Linked DNA regions of Homo sapiens: region 2 is linked to region 1. A link means that fine-mapping ties the variant in region 1 to the expression of a gene that starts in the linked region. Tissue or cell type: whole blood. Region 1 holds a variant in brackets; the other region holds the start of a gene. All regions are shown on one strand. Distances are from middle to middle.

What was found. PIP is the estimated chance that this variant, and not a neighbour inherited with it, causes the effect.
Region 2: ENO2 starts here. The variant in region 1 is fine-mapped to the expression of ENO2 in whole blood (TOPMed, PIP above 0.99).

What each region holds. Positions count from the first base shown.
Region 1 is chr12:6,840,606-6,846,760 of GRCh38, reverse strand. GNB3 (G protein subunit beta 3) reads right to left here and starts at 5,836. Exons shown (of 10, transcript NM_002075.4): 1 at 5,728-5,836; 2 at 5,417-5,503; 3 at 5,137-5,175; 4 at 3,685-3,791; 5 at 3,524-3,587; 6 at 3,236-3,398; 7 at 3,063-3,129; 8 at 2,783-2,984; 9 at 959-1,175. The coding sequence starts at 5,473. It also overlaps a transcript of CDCA3 not described here. The variant G/T (reference allele first, on the strand shown) is at 2,107.
Region 2 is chr12:6,911,530-6,917,140 of GRCh38, reverse strand. It overlaps ENO2 (enolase 2), which reads right to left and starts at 2,561. Exons shown (of 12, transcript NM_001975.3): 1 at 2,482-2,561; 2 at 1,224-1,320; 3 at 629-724; 4 at 412-470; 5 at 34-103. The coding sequence starts at 1,308. LRRC23 (leucine rich repeat containing 23) reads right to left here. Exons shown (of 8, transcript NM_001135217.2): 7 at 4,114-4,411; 8 at 2,912-3,250. The coding sequence ends at 4,138. RefSeq lists enhancers at 929-1,568, 1,569-2,210, 2,889-3,058, 3,089-3,158 and silencers at 2,567-2,757, 2,289-2,778.

The DNA.
Region 1 (6,155 bases):
CTCCAAGCTGATTTGGAAAGCAGTGTGTGCATGCGTGTAAGTGTATGTGTGGGTGTGTGGGTGTGTGTGTGTATGTGGGTGTGTGGGGGGATATGTGTGCATGTGTATGCATGTGTGGGTGTGTGTACGTGTGTGTGTGCATGTGTGCTTGAGCACATGCATGCAGGGATCCTAGACTCGGTAGACTGGGCTCAACCCCTGAAGAAGGCTAAGAGACTGAAAGAGGATTAGCTGTAGGGCAGGGGGTTCTCTGTCAAGAGCTTTGGTTGGGGGAGGGCTGGGATCAGACAGAGAAAGGCTGGAAGCATCTGTGTACTATGAAAAAACCCGAGGGCACCTTGACAGGTGCTGGAAAAGAGAAGGCAACCGTTCATCCTATTTCTTTGCTTCCAGATGAAGAAACTGAGGCCCATGGAGGAGTGACTTGTGCAAGGACACTCAGAAAGTGAGCAACAGAATTAGGATTTGGATTCTGCCCCTGGCCAGTGTTATTTTCATCAGCACCTGGCCTCTTGATAGAGAAGAAGCCATCCTATCTGACCAACTTCAGGCTAGTCTTAGATGAGCCCTAGGCTGCAGTCAGGGCCCTCGGGCCACTCCAGATCTCCTTGATTCTGCCTTGATTCCATGTTTCCCTGAGGCTGTCTTGCCTCTCAGTGGGTGCCCCTGAAATGCCAGGAACCCAGAACTGACTGGACAGTCATGGTCCACAGATCTCCTAGGGCAGGGAGCAGTCATGGCATTGGGCAGTGGAGAGAGGCTGCTTAGAGCAACACTGAGGGAAAACAGTCCTAGTTGGGAACCAAGGGGTACTGGATTCCAGGGGTGGAGTCACCCAGTGACAAGGGACAGCAGTAAGAGAGTCCGAAATGGGAGCTGATGGGGGGTACAGAATGGGGAGGGAGGGCTGGGGAGGGTCCTTCCAGCTGAGGAAGCAGCAGCCAGGGCTGGCCCTTACCCACACGCTCAGACTTCATGGAGTCCCAGACATTGCAGTTGAAGTCGTCGTAGCCAGCGAATAGTAGGCGGCCACTGAGGGAGAAGGCCACGGACGTGATGCCGCAGATGATGCTCTCGTGGGAGAAGCAGATCAGCTCCTGGTCTGCCCGCAGGTCAAACAAGCGGCAGGAAGCGTCATCCGAGCCCGTGCAGATGGCCTCTCCATTGGGGAAGAACTGAGGGCACGGGTGGCAAGTGGGTCAGGGATCAGACCTGGGCAGCCCACAGCCTCTCCCGCCCTCTGCCTCCCACCTGACAGCTCCAGGGCAAGCCGCTGCTCTCAGCCTCCCTGCCTGTCCCTCCCTTGGTTTGGGGTGAGAAGCAGCCCTGCCAACACATACCACGTGCCAGTGACTTCCCTATGCCCCTCGCCCGCTCTGCACTATACAGCGCTGCAGGCAGGCATCATTTCCACGTCGCAGGCAAGAGCACCAAGGCTTGCCTGCAGTGACCCGGCTAGAAGGGCGGACGGAGGTTGTCCCAGACTCCCAGACTACACAAGTGGGCTGGATCAGGGTGTGTAAGAACAGGGTCCAGTACAAATGCAAGGCCTGGATCTCACGGCGAGCAAATGTCAGATAAGCTCAAACGGAGGGAGAGTCTACAGAAAACTGGTTTGTACTCTTCAAAAACGTCAATGACATAAAAGACAAAGGTGGGAAAACAGTTCCAGTTTAAAGGTGGTGACGAAAAAGATATGGCGAGGAAAGGTAATGCACGTTTCTGGATTGGATCCTGGACAGAAAAAAACATGAGCTATTATGGACATTTTTGAGGCTATTGGTGAAATTTGAATATAGACTGTAGACTGTAGTATTGTGTCAATGTTGAGTTTCCTGATCTTAAGAATCATACAGTGATTATGCTACAGAAGGGCTTTGTTTCGGGAAGTACTTAAGGGGTAAAGAAACATGATGTCTGCAACCTACTTTCAAAAGACACAGAAAGAAAATGTATATCTACATCTAAGTGTGTATGTGTGTGTGTATCTATGGCTATTTCTCTACAGAGAAAAAATGATAAAGCAAACGTGATAAAATGGGCTAGGCGTGGTGGCTCATGCCTGTAATCCCAATATTTTGGGAGACTGAGGCAGGAGGATCGCTT[G/T]AGCTCAGAAGTTCCAGCTCAGCCTGGGCAACATAGTGGGAACCCATCTCTACACAAAAATCAAAACATTAGCCAAGCGTGGTCACACGCATCTGTAGTCCCAGCTACTCAGGAGGCTGTGGTGGGAGGATTGGTTGAACCCTGGAGGTTGAGACTGCGGTGAGCTATGATAGCACCACTGCATCCAGACTGGGCAACAGTGTGAGACTCTGTCTCCAAAAAAAGGAAAGAAAGAAAGGGCTAGGGAAGACTGGGCACAGTGGCTCACATCTGTAATCCCAGCACTGCACTCTGGGAAGCTGAGGTGGGAGGATCACCTCAGGTCAAGAGTTCAAGACCAGCCTGGCCAACATGGCAAAACCCCATCTCTACTAAAAATACAAAAATTAGCCGGGCATGGTGGCGCACACCTGTAATCCCAGCTACTCAGGAGGCTGAAGCAGGAGAATTGCTCCAACCCAGGAGGCAGAGGTTGCAGTGAGCCAAGATTGCACCACTGCACTCCAGCCTGGGCGACAAAGTGAGACTCTGTCTCAAAAAAAAAAAAAAAAAAAAAAAAAATACAGTAAGAAAGGGCTAGGGAAGCTATGGGAGGGGCAGAGGATGTGTATTGTATGTGTTGTGGGGAGTGTCGGGGAAGGAGTTGGAGTGAAGCTGGGGTGGGGGGTGCACTCACACAGATGGCGTTGATGTCCGACTCGTGGCCAGTGAAAGTCTGACGGCAGGTCCCCTCTCGCACATCCCAGAGCTTGGCACTGGCATCACAGGCCCCCGAAATGAAGAGATTGAAGTCAGGAGACACAGCCAGGCTCATGCAGTCACCCGTGTGTCCCACAAATACAGTCTTCTGCTGCCCAGTCTCAATGTCCCACAAGGCACTGCCAAAATGGAGGGAGACTGTTAGAGAAAGGCCGGGCCCACTCCCAAGCCCCAGCACCAGCAATGTTCAGCCTCACCACGTGGTGTCCCCCGAGCTGGTCACAATATTGTTGTCATCCAGGAAGCGGCAGCAGGAGAGATAACCTGGAGGCGGTTAGAAGGACAGTGCCCTGGCTGCAGAGCCACAGCCCACTGGAAGCCCAGGGTTCCCTGAACCCCTCAGGAGGGGAGGAGAGGGTCTCTCCCTCACCTGTGTGAGCAGAAAGCTCCCGGCTGACCTTGACATTGCCCTCACGGGATTTGAGGTTGTAGATGGAACACATGTTGTCCAGCCCCCCACATGCCACAAAGTTCCCTGATGGGGCATAGGCACAGGTCATGACCCAGGAGGAGCGCAGTGGGATGGCGTGCACCTGCAGGGAGGGTGGTTTGAGCAGAGATGGGACCGGAGCCAAGCTCCCAGCTGGGCACAGGAGGGTAGGCATGGCGCCCTTAGGAAGGATGCAGTGGTGGAGGCTCAGGGAGGCAGGGCTGGTACCTTGTTGGTGGTGTAGCTGTCCCACACGATCAGCTTCCCATCTTGCGAGGCACTTACCAGCAGCCTGGGGAGAGGGCATCCCATATCATGCAAGCCTCCCCTTCCCGCCTTCCTCACTCCCGCTCTCACCCTCCCATTCTCGGTTCCCCCCCAAGCCTCACTTAGAATCAGTGGCCCAGTGCATGGCGTAAATCTTGGCCAGGTGTCCCCTTAACGTCCGCCGCGTCCGCATCTGGACTCGTCCCACCACCTCTAGGCCAGACACCAGCTGCAGAGAGAGGGGCACTGAATATCAGGGTGAGCAGGTTACGTGCCCAGATGTCTGTCACTGCCACTGATCTATACAAGTTCCCGCTCTGTGCCAGGCTCTAGGTCAGGCCCCCAGCCTTAGAGAAATAAGTCTCTGCCCTGGAGTGTCTTAGACTGATGTGGGAAAGAGATGCATGCATGGCCAGAGGTGTGTTGCTTGTAAGTGTTTAACAAGCACCTCTCCAGTGTTGGTGAGGAAGGTGGGAAGGTGATTTCCACGATACGAATACTTGCACTTTGACCAGTTTCCAGCTGCCAATGTGAGGTCATTGGAAACAGATTTGGGAAGAGATGCACAGAGCTGGCTCTCCCAAGCCGAGAGGAGCCTGCTTGCACCCACCGCTGCAGCACGGCTAGCTTTTTAACTGGGTGCCTGGGGCATCACCATGACCCTGAACTGTACCTCCTGAAATCTGTGGTACTATGCCCCTTGAGCTCTAACCACATTTTAGACTTAGGCTGGGGGTCCAGAGTGAACAGACTTGATTTGCCATCACTTGCATTGCTATCTTTTTTTAAAAAGTTAAAAGCAATTTTTTTTATATTAAGAAGAGATCTCACTATGTTGCCCAGGCTGGTCTCAAACTCCTGAGCTCAAGTGATCCTTTCACGTCAGTCTCCCAAAGGGCTGGGATTACAGGCGTGAACCACTGCGCCCGGCCTGCTTTGTTATCTTGGGCAAGTTGCTTCACCTCCCTGAGTCTGTTTACTCAAGGTGTAAAATGAGGCTTATCATAGCACCTACCTTACAGAGATATCATGAAAATTCAATGAAATCAGGTATTTATGCAGCTTAGCCCAGTATCTGGCTCATAAAAAGTGTTCACTATTAACATATTTAATCCAATCTAAGATGCATCACTAAGAAAGAAAAGATGCTGTCAATTCTAATTGAAACAATGATCCATTGCTGAATGCACCTTGATTTCAGAGATGTCAAAATGTGAAGAAATGTGCATCTTAGAATTGACAAAATACAGCATAGAAAACTAGCAGCTAGAGTCTACAAGGGCTTTATAATTTACAAAGTACTATCGCTTCTTCATCTTCAAGGCCCTGGGAGGGGGCTGTGGTCACTCTTGTTCTACGGATGAGAATAGGAACCGTGTCCGCATCTTTCGCATCCAATATGGTGCCTGGCTCAGAGCAGGTCCCGCTAAAATGTTGGTCGAATGAATTAATTAATGGGTTTCCTCACTCCAAGGACGTGCTGTACTAATGCTCGGAGCAACGCGCTATTGCGGGTCGGGGAGCTCCCTTCCCCTCCCCCCATGCCCTGCCTTCCGGGGGACAGGGGGTCTTACCTCTGCCAGAGTAACGTCAGCACAGGCTTTCCTGGCATCCTGCAGGGAAAGCAGACATCAGGGGAGCAAGGGCGAGGTGGGGGTGGCAGGTGCATGGGCCTTCAGGGCAGGTTGGTCTTGGGGCTCTGGGGCTTGGGGGTCTCAAATATGCGAACCAAGTTTAGAAAGTCCCTGGTCACTTCTAGTCACTCAAGAGCAAACCCAGCCCCCTCCCCCTGGGCCACGCTCCTCATGTCCCCAGCTGTTTTCTGGGGCCCCAGGGGTAGGGCTCTGGAGTTACTGCAATCTGCTTCTTGAGCTGCTCCGCTTCCTGACGCAGTTGCTCCATCTCCCCCATGGCTGACAGGTCGAGGGGTCACTCTGGCTCCTGCCAGGAACATGGGGTCGGTGTTGAGGAACCCCCCACCAGGCTGTGCTTCTGCCCTTCGTGCCCACACCAGACTCCAAGACACAGGGAAACGACTGGGTGGCTGCACCCTCTCCCCAGCTAGGCCCTCCAAGTTTGAGGTCCTTTGCGTCCAGCCCCAGCCTGCCTGAGCCCTGCCTGCGCCCCAGCCCAGGAGAGCAGAGCCCAGGCCAGCTCCCTCTTACTTGGGCTCTGGCTGGACCTCGGCCGGGTTTCCAGCTCCGGTTCCTGGGAGCCTCCTTACTCCCTCAGCTGCGACGCCCGCGCCCGCCCGTCACCTGCCCAGGCTCTGCTGCCAGAGGAGCTGGCCTGGCCTGGCCTGGCCCCGACCGGCGGGGGGTTGGGGGGGCCTGACAGGGAAGGGTAGAGCCAACCACAACGTCAGGCAAATGAAATCAGCTGGCAGGGGTGGGGGGAAGGGGTGGGGGGAGGGAGGGAGGTGTACGGATTCCAGAGAGACTTGGGCCCAGCCGGGAGGAGGGTTGGGGGCAGGAGTGTGGGGCCATAGAGAGGGGCAGCCCCCACCACAAGCCCTGAGAGAGGAGGGGGTGAAGGGGTGCTTCCCTGGTCAGTCTCTGCAGGCAGAGATAAGAGCATCAGGCCCCACAGGATT
Region 2 (5,611 bases), 71 kb before region 1:
ACGCTTCCCCACTTTCTCCCGGCCCCGGCTCACATTTGTTCTCAGTCCCATCCAACTCCAGCATCAGGTTGTCCAGTTTCTCTTGCTCCACCACAGAGAGACCCTGAGGGCAGAGCCTCCATCACCCAGGGCCAGGCTGGAGGCTGAGCCCTAAGGCAGAGGGTCCCCTCATTCACACCCAAGCTCACATTTGGCCAGGGTCCAACCAGGTCCCTGTGACAGGGGCCTACCTGGATTAGGGGACCTGAACTCCCATGGGAGCAGGGTGCATTAAGGAAGCTGTTCCCCACCCTTCCCCCTTGTAACCATGATTCCTAAGAGTGGGCCTTCTTTCTTCCCTTCCTCCTGCCCTGCTCCGGGATTCCTTCCAGAACTCTGGCCCTGCTATCCCCAGCAAAGAGCAGGCCTCACTGAGCTGATGAGGGCTGGCGCGATGGTGGAGTTGATGTGGTCCACTGCCTTCAGGACACCTGGGGAAAGGAAGAGGCTGGACTGGGTCGGGCCAGGAGGGGCCGGAAGGGATCAATGGGAGGAGGGGAAGCCATGCTAGAGGAGGACTGGGGACTGGTGTGAGGTAGGGGCATAAGGCTGAGGTGGGGGAGAGTCTGGAAAAGAGAAGGGACCTCACCTTTGCCTAAGTAACGCTGTTTGTCTCCATCCCTCAGCTCCAGGGCCTCATAGATGCCCGTAGAGGCTCCACTGGGCACTGCAGCCCGGAAAAGACCTAAAGGAGGAACATGGAATGAGAGGGAGTGAAGAGGACACAGGGGCCAGGGAGTCCTTCAGCCTTCTGGCTCTAAACTGCCTGCCTACCACATCTAGCTCTCTCCCCACACTGCTCCCTAACATCCCCCCACCCCCACCCCACACACACACTGAGGCAGATGCACAAGAAGTGGCCTCCTCATCCACCCATCTGAGGCCCCACATGCACAAGTGGGAGCCCGCAGAAAGAAAATTGCTTGCAGCACACGTCTGCACACATGCAAGTGCACAGGCAGACACACGGAGGCAGGACATGCCTCACACGCTAAACTCGAACACAGACCCACCTACCCTGGCTCCCCGGACAAGGAGGATCCAACCGCCACAACCCAGGCTTGTGAGCCTGGCCCAGCACCCCATACCCCTGGGTATCAAAAAAGGCCTCCGAACCCCTGGCCGAACCCAGCCTGGCCGTGGAAAAGCTAGGGCTGTAGGAAGGCCCATGCCACACCCATTACCTTTGGCAGTATAGAGATCCACCTCCACTGTGGGGTTCCCGCGGGAGTCCAGGATCTCCCGGGCCCAGATCTTCTCTATGGACATGATGGCTGGGATCTCCTCGGGTGGAAGGGAAGGAAGGAGAAAGATAAGAGGCTTAGAGGGGTGGAGCCTGAGATCAATGGGCGGGGCGGGAGGCTGGGAGGGATGGGAAAGAGGTTACTGCAGTGGGTGGGGGGTGGGTAGGGAGGCGCTGGCTGCAGTCTAGGGCTGTAGAAGGGATTCCCCCTCCCCCCTGGGAAGAGGAGAAGGTCAATGCAGTGAGGAAGGGGAGGTCACTGCAGTGGGGGGCGGGGTAAGATCAAATGATGAGATGGGAGAACACTGCAGTGAGGAGGGGAGGGGCACGACAGTGGTTCCCGCGCCTCTTTGCAGCTTGGCCAGCCGGTGGGGTTCCCCCAGATCTCCTCAGAGCGGAATGGCTGCCAGGCTTGCATTTCTCCTGGGAGCCAAGAAGAGGATGGGCTGCCTGGGCCTCTCTTCCAGAGCCCCCATACCTCCCCAACTTAACACCCCAGCTGCCTGAACACTGCCCCTTCCCCAAGGTCCCACTCTCTCCCAAACGTGTATCCCTCCTCTTCCCGCGAAAGGCGCATGCAATACAGGTGTCGGGGAAGAGGGTCCTGAGAAAGGCCCTGCAGTCCCTGGGGGTTGCAGCGGGAAGTGAAGAGGATAAGAGCCGGTGGGGAGTGGAGGCGAGCTGGGCCTGTCCTCCCCTCTGCGCCTCGACAGATCCCCACTTCTTCCATCTCTCCCCCGTGCAGCAGAGGGGAGGAAGCGCGAACGGAGAGGGGCGCCGTGGGGAAGAGCAGGAGAGAGGGGAGTCCAAGGGAAGTCTGGGGGAGGTGAGGAACGGTGAGAGAAGACATTTCCCCAAATGCAAACCAAAAGGGACGCTCTAGGATAAAAATGCACCGCCCGGAGAGGCTCCCAACTTAGAAACAAATAGAACCGTAGATGAGGGCGAGCACCGGGAGAGAGGCAGGCAAGGGTGGAGAGGCGCAGTTAGAGATAGGCGCGCAGAGGGCCAGAAAGCGAAGGCAGCGGGCGGGGAAGGCCAGGGAGGGAAGGCGCCCTGGGCGCGGGCGGCGGAGCAGGTGCGCAGCTGCACCGGGCCAGAGATGCGGAGAGGTGCGCAGCGGCACCGGGTAAAGGAGGCAGGGGCGCCGCGGCGAAGGGAGGGGGCCACAGGGGCTCTGGGCCTGGCGGGGGCTTCACCTCGGGACTGCAGACTCAGACGGTGGTAGTGGCGGTGGCGGTGGCGGTGGCGACGGCGGCGCTGAGAGAGCGGGAGTGGCAGTGGCGGCGGCGGCTGCGGCTCCCGGGCGGCGGGCGGAGGAGGCGCCTATAGGGCCGCGCGGGCGCATGTGACCCGGAGCCCCCGATGAGTCAGGAGCTGCCGGCGGAGGCGCACGTACGAGCGCGGGTGGGGGACCGACGAGGGTGGAGTGGGGAAGGGAGGAGGATGGGGGAAGGGTGGGGGCACCCACGACCTGGCCCCAGCGCACACAAGCGCTCATACCCACGGCCCGACCCACTCGACAGTAACAGGCAGAGCCGCACCCCTGTAGCCCGGGTACGAAGGCCCACACTGCCAGTGAAGCCCAAGACAGCCTCAATGTCTCACAAACCCGGTCAGACACAGGAGCATCACTCTGTTTCTTTATTGGAAATCCGAACACCCCAGCCGCCTTCGCAAGTCTCTCCAACCACTCCTACCAGCACCCCGCGGCCCACGCGGTCTTGGCTCTCACCCACGCCTGCCCGAGGGCGGCCCCCGGCCTAGGCTCCAGGCAACGCTCAGGCCTAGGCACCCCATTCTGCACCCCACACTGCCCAGAGGACCGGCACAGAGCAGATCCTGGGCCTCAGGTTGTGATGAATTTCCAGCTTTGGGGCAAAAACAGGCATCCTCTGTTCTCTGTCATACATGTGGTGGCTGCCCCTGGGAGTCTGATCAGGTCTGAAGGCCAGCGTCTTTGATCTCCTGGAGGTAGAAGACAGAAGTAAATAGGGACCAGGCGCTGTGGCTCACCCCTGTAATCCCAGCACTTTGGAAGGCGGAGGCGGGCAGATCACGAGGTCAGGAGATCCAGACCATCCTGGCTAACGTGGTGAAACCCCGTTTCTACTAAAAATACAAAAATTAGCCAGGCGCGGTTGCATGCGCCTGTAGTCCCAGCTACTCGGGAGGCTGAGGCAGGAGAATTGCTTGAACCCAGGAGGTGGAAGTTGCAGTGAGCTGAGATTGTGCCACTGCACTCCAGCCTGGAGACTAAGCAAGACTACCTCGCAAAAAAAAAAAAAAAAAAAAAAAAAAAACAAACAGAGGTAAATAAAGCCTCTCCCCTATCTAAAGTGCCTGGCGGCCACCCTCATCTCTTCAGTCTCTTTTTGCCTCACTCTGCCCTCTTTTCTTCCCCCATCTCTGTGTCCTGTTTTTAGCTTCAGATTTTTTGTGCTGGATCTTCCTCTCCTGCTTCTCTCCTAGGTCCAGCTGCATACACCACCAACTTTCCCCTGCAGCCCCTACCATGCACCCACACCTGTCCTTTCCTAGCCGACTTCACTCTGTGTCAGGTATGGCTGCCCCACCCCCCACCAACTCCTCTGCCTGCCACCCCAATTCTTTTCACTTACTCTTCTGGCCTCCTAAGTCTTTCTCAGCTGGTCCCAGGCCCCTTGGGTCCCTTTTCCTCTCCCTGACTCCTAACCCTCCTCTCTTTAAGGGTCCTGCTTGTCTGATGCTTTCCTCTCCCACCTCCTTCTGCAGCAGCTTCCCCTCTTGCCTCTTCCCCTACCTGCCCAGCCCTTGGCCTCCTCCCACTGCCTCCCTGCAGGCTTCCTTACTATCTTTAGAGGCTAGAACTGCTGCTAGATCAATGACTGTTCGGGTTCCAGGTCACGCTGGGGCTCAGGCTCCTGCTCCTTTTCTTCCTTCAGCCTCTGTCGAATCACATCAGCCTCAGCCCGTTCCTCCTCCTCATAGAATTCCTTGTCCAGGCGTTCAAGGTATGGCATCTGCACCAGGGCCTCCTGGCGGTAGCTGGTTTCGTCCGTGCATGGGTTATCAAGCAGCACCAACGCTCGCAGCTTGGGCAGGTCTCGAAGCTTGGCCAGCTCCCCCAGGTTGGCCACCATGTTGCCCCTGCCAGTGTGGTCAGGAGGGGTTCATGCAGGAATAATGGGCTTTGGTTGCCAGTTGCTAGGAATGGGGCCTCTGGGGGACTCTCGGGGTTCCAGTGTCCCTAGAAACACTGTGAGGACTGGCCTGCCAAGCCTTGCCAGATTTACTGCAGAGGTGCTGTGTGACCCCGCTCTGGTCCTGCTTCTGCCCTTCAAGGAATCCCTAAGTGCCATATTCTACTCTGTAATACATTCATGTGTTCTTTTGGTGCAGCAAAGCTAGGCCACAACCCTGTCTTGTAGCTGGGGAGGAGAGGGCAAATTTTCCTCACAGGGAGAGACATTTTCTGTGATCACACCTAAATGGAGGGTAGAAGGTAGGACCCAGCCTGGGCAACATAGCGAGACCCCATCTGTACAAAAGCTAAAAATAAAAAAATTAGCTGGGCGTGATGGCATACACCTGTAGTCCTTGCTACTTAGCTGAGGAGGAGGGATTGCTTGACCCCAGGAGTTTGAGATTACAGTGAGCCGAGATCGAGCCACTGCACTCCACCCTGTAGGACCTAGGTCAGTGGACAAGGAACTGGGATCTAAGCTGGAGTTTAGGGTGGTGGATGCTCGGTTCGTGCTCTCCACAAAGAGAACCTAAGGCTATGGATGGGTTGGAGCCTCCCAACCTGAAGAATAAACTTCATCTCCTAATGTGCCTCATTATATGATACTCTGTTTTTATTTTATTTTTATTGAGACAGGGTCTCACTATGTCACCCCGGTTGGGGGTGCAGTGGCATGATCATAGCTCACTGCAGCCTTGAATTCCTGGGCTCAAGTGATCCTCTCACCTTAGCTTCCTAAGTACCTCCAGGCATGTGCCACCACACCTGGCTAATGTTTAAATTTTTTGTAGAGACTGGGTCTCACTATGTTGCCCAGGTTTGTCTTGAACGCCTGGCCTCAAGCAGTCCTCTTGCCTTGGCCCCCCCAAAGTGCTGGGATTACAGGCGTGAGCCACCATGCCTGGAATTTTATTTATTTTCATGTTCTGGCTTTAAGCTTTTATGAAATCTATTTAAGTGTTTCAGCCTGATCTCATGGTCGTGCTGAGCCTCATGCAGTGTTTCTCACCAGGAGGGCTACAGGAACTTTGTACTGGACTCTGCCATACATTGTTGGATGCTTAGCATCTCTGGCCCCAGAGGCACCTGCCAATCATTGAGAC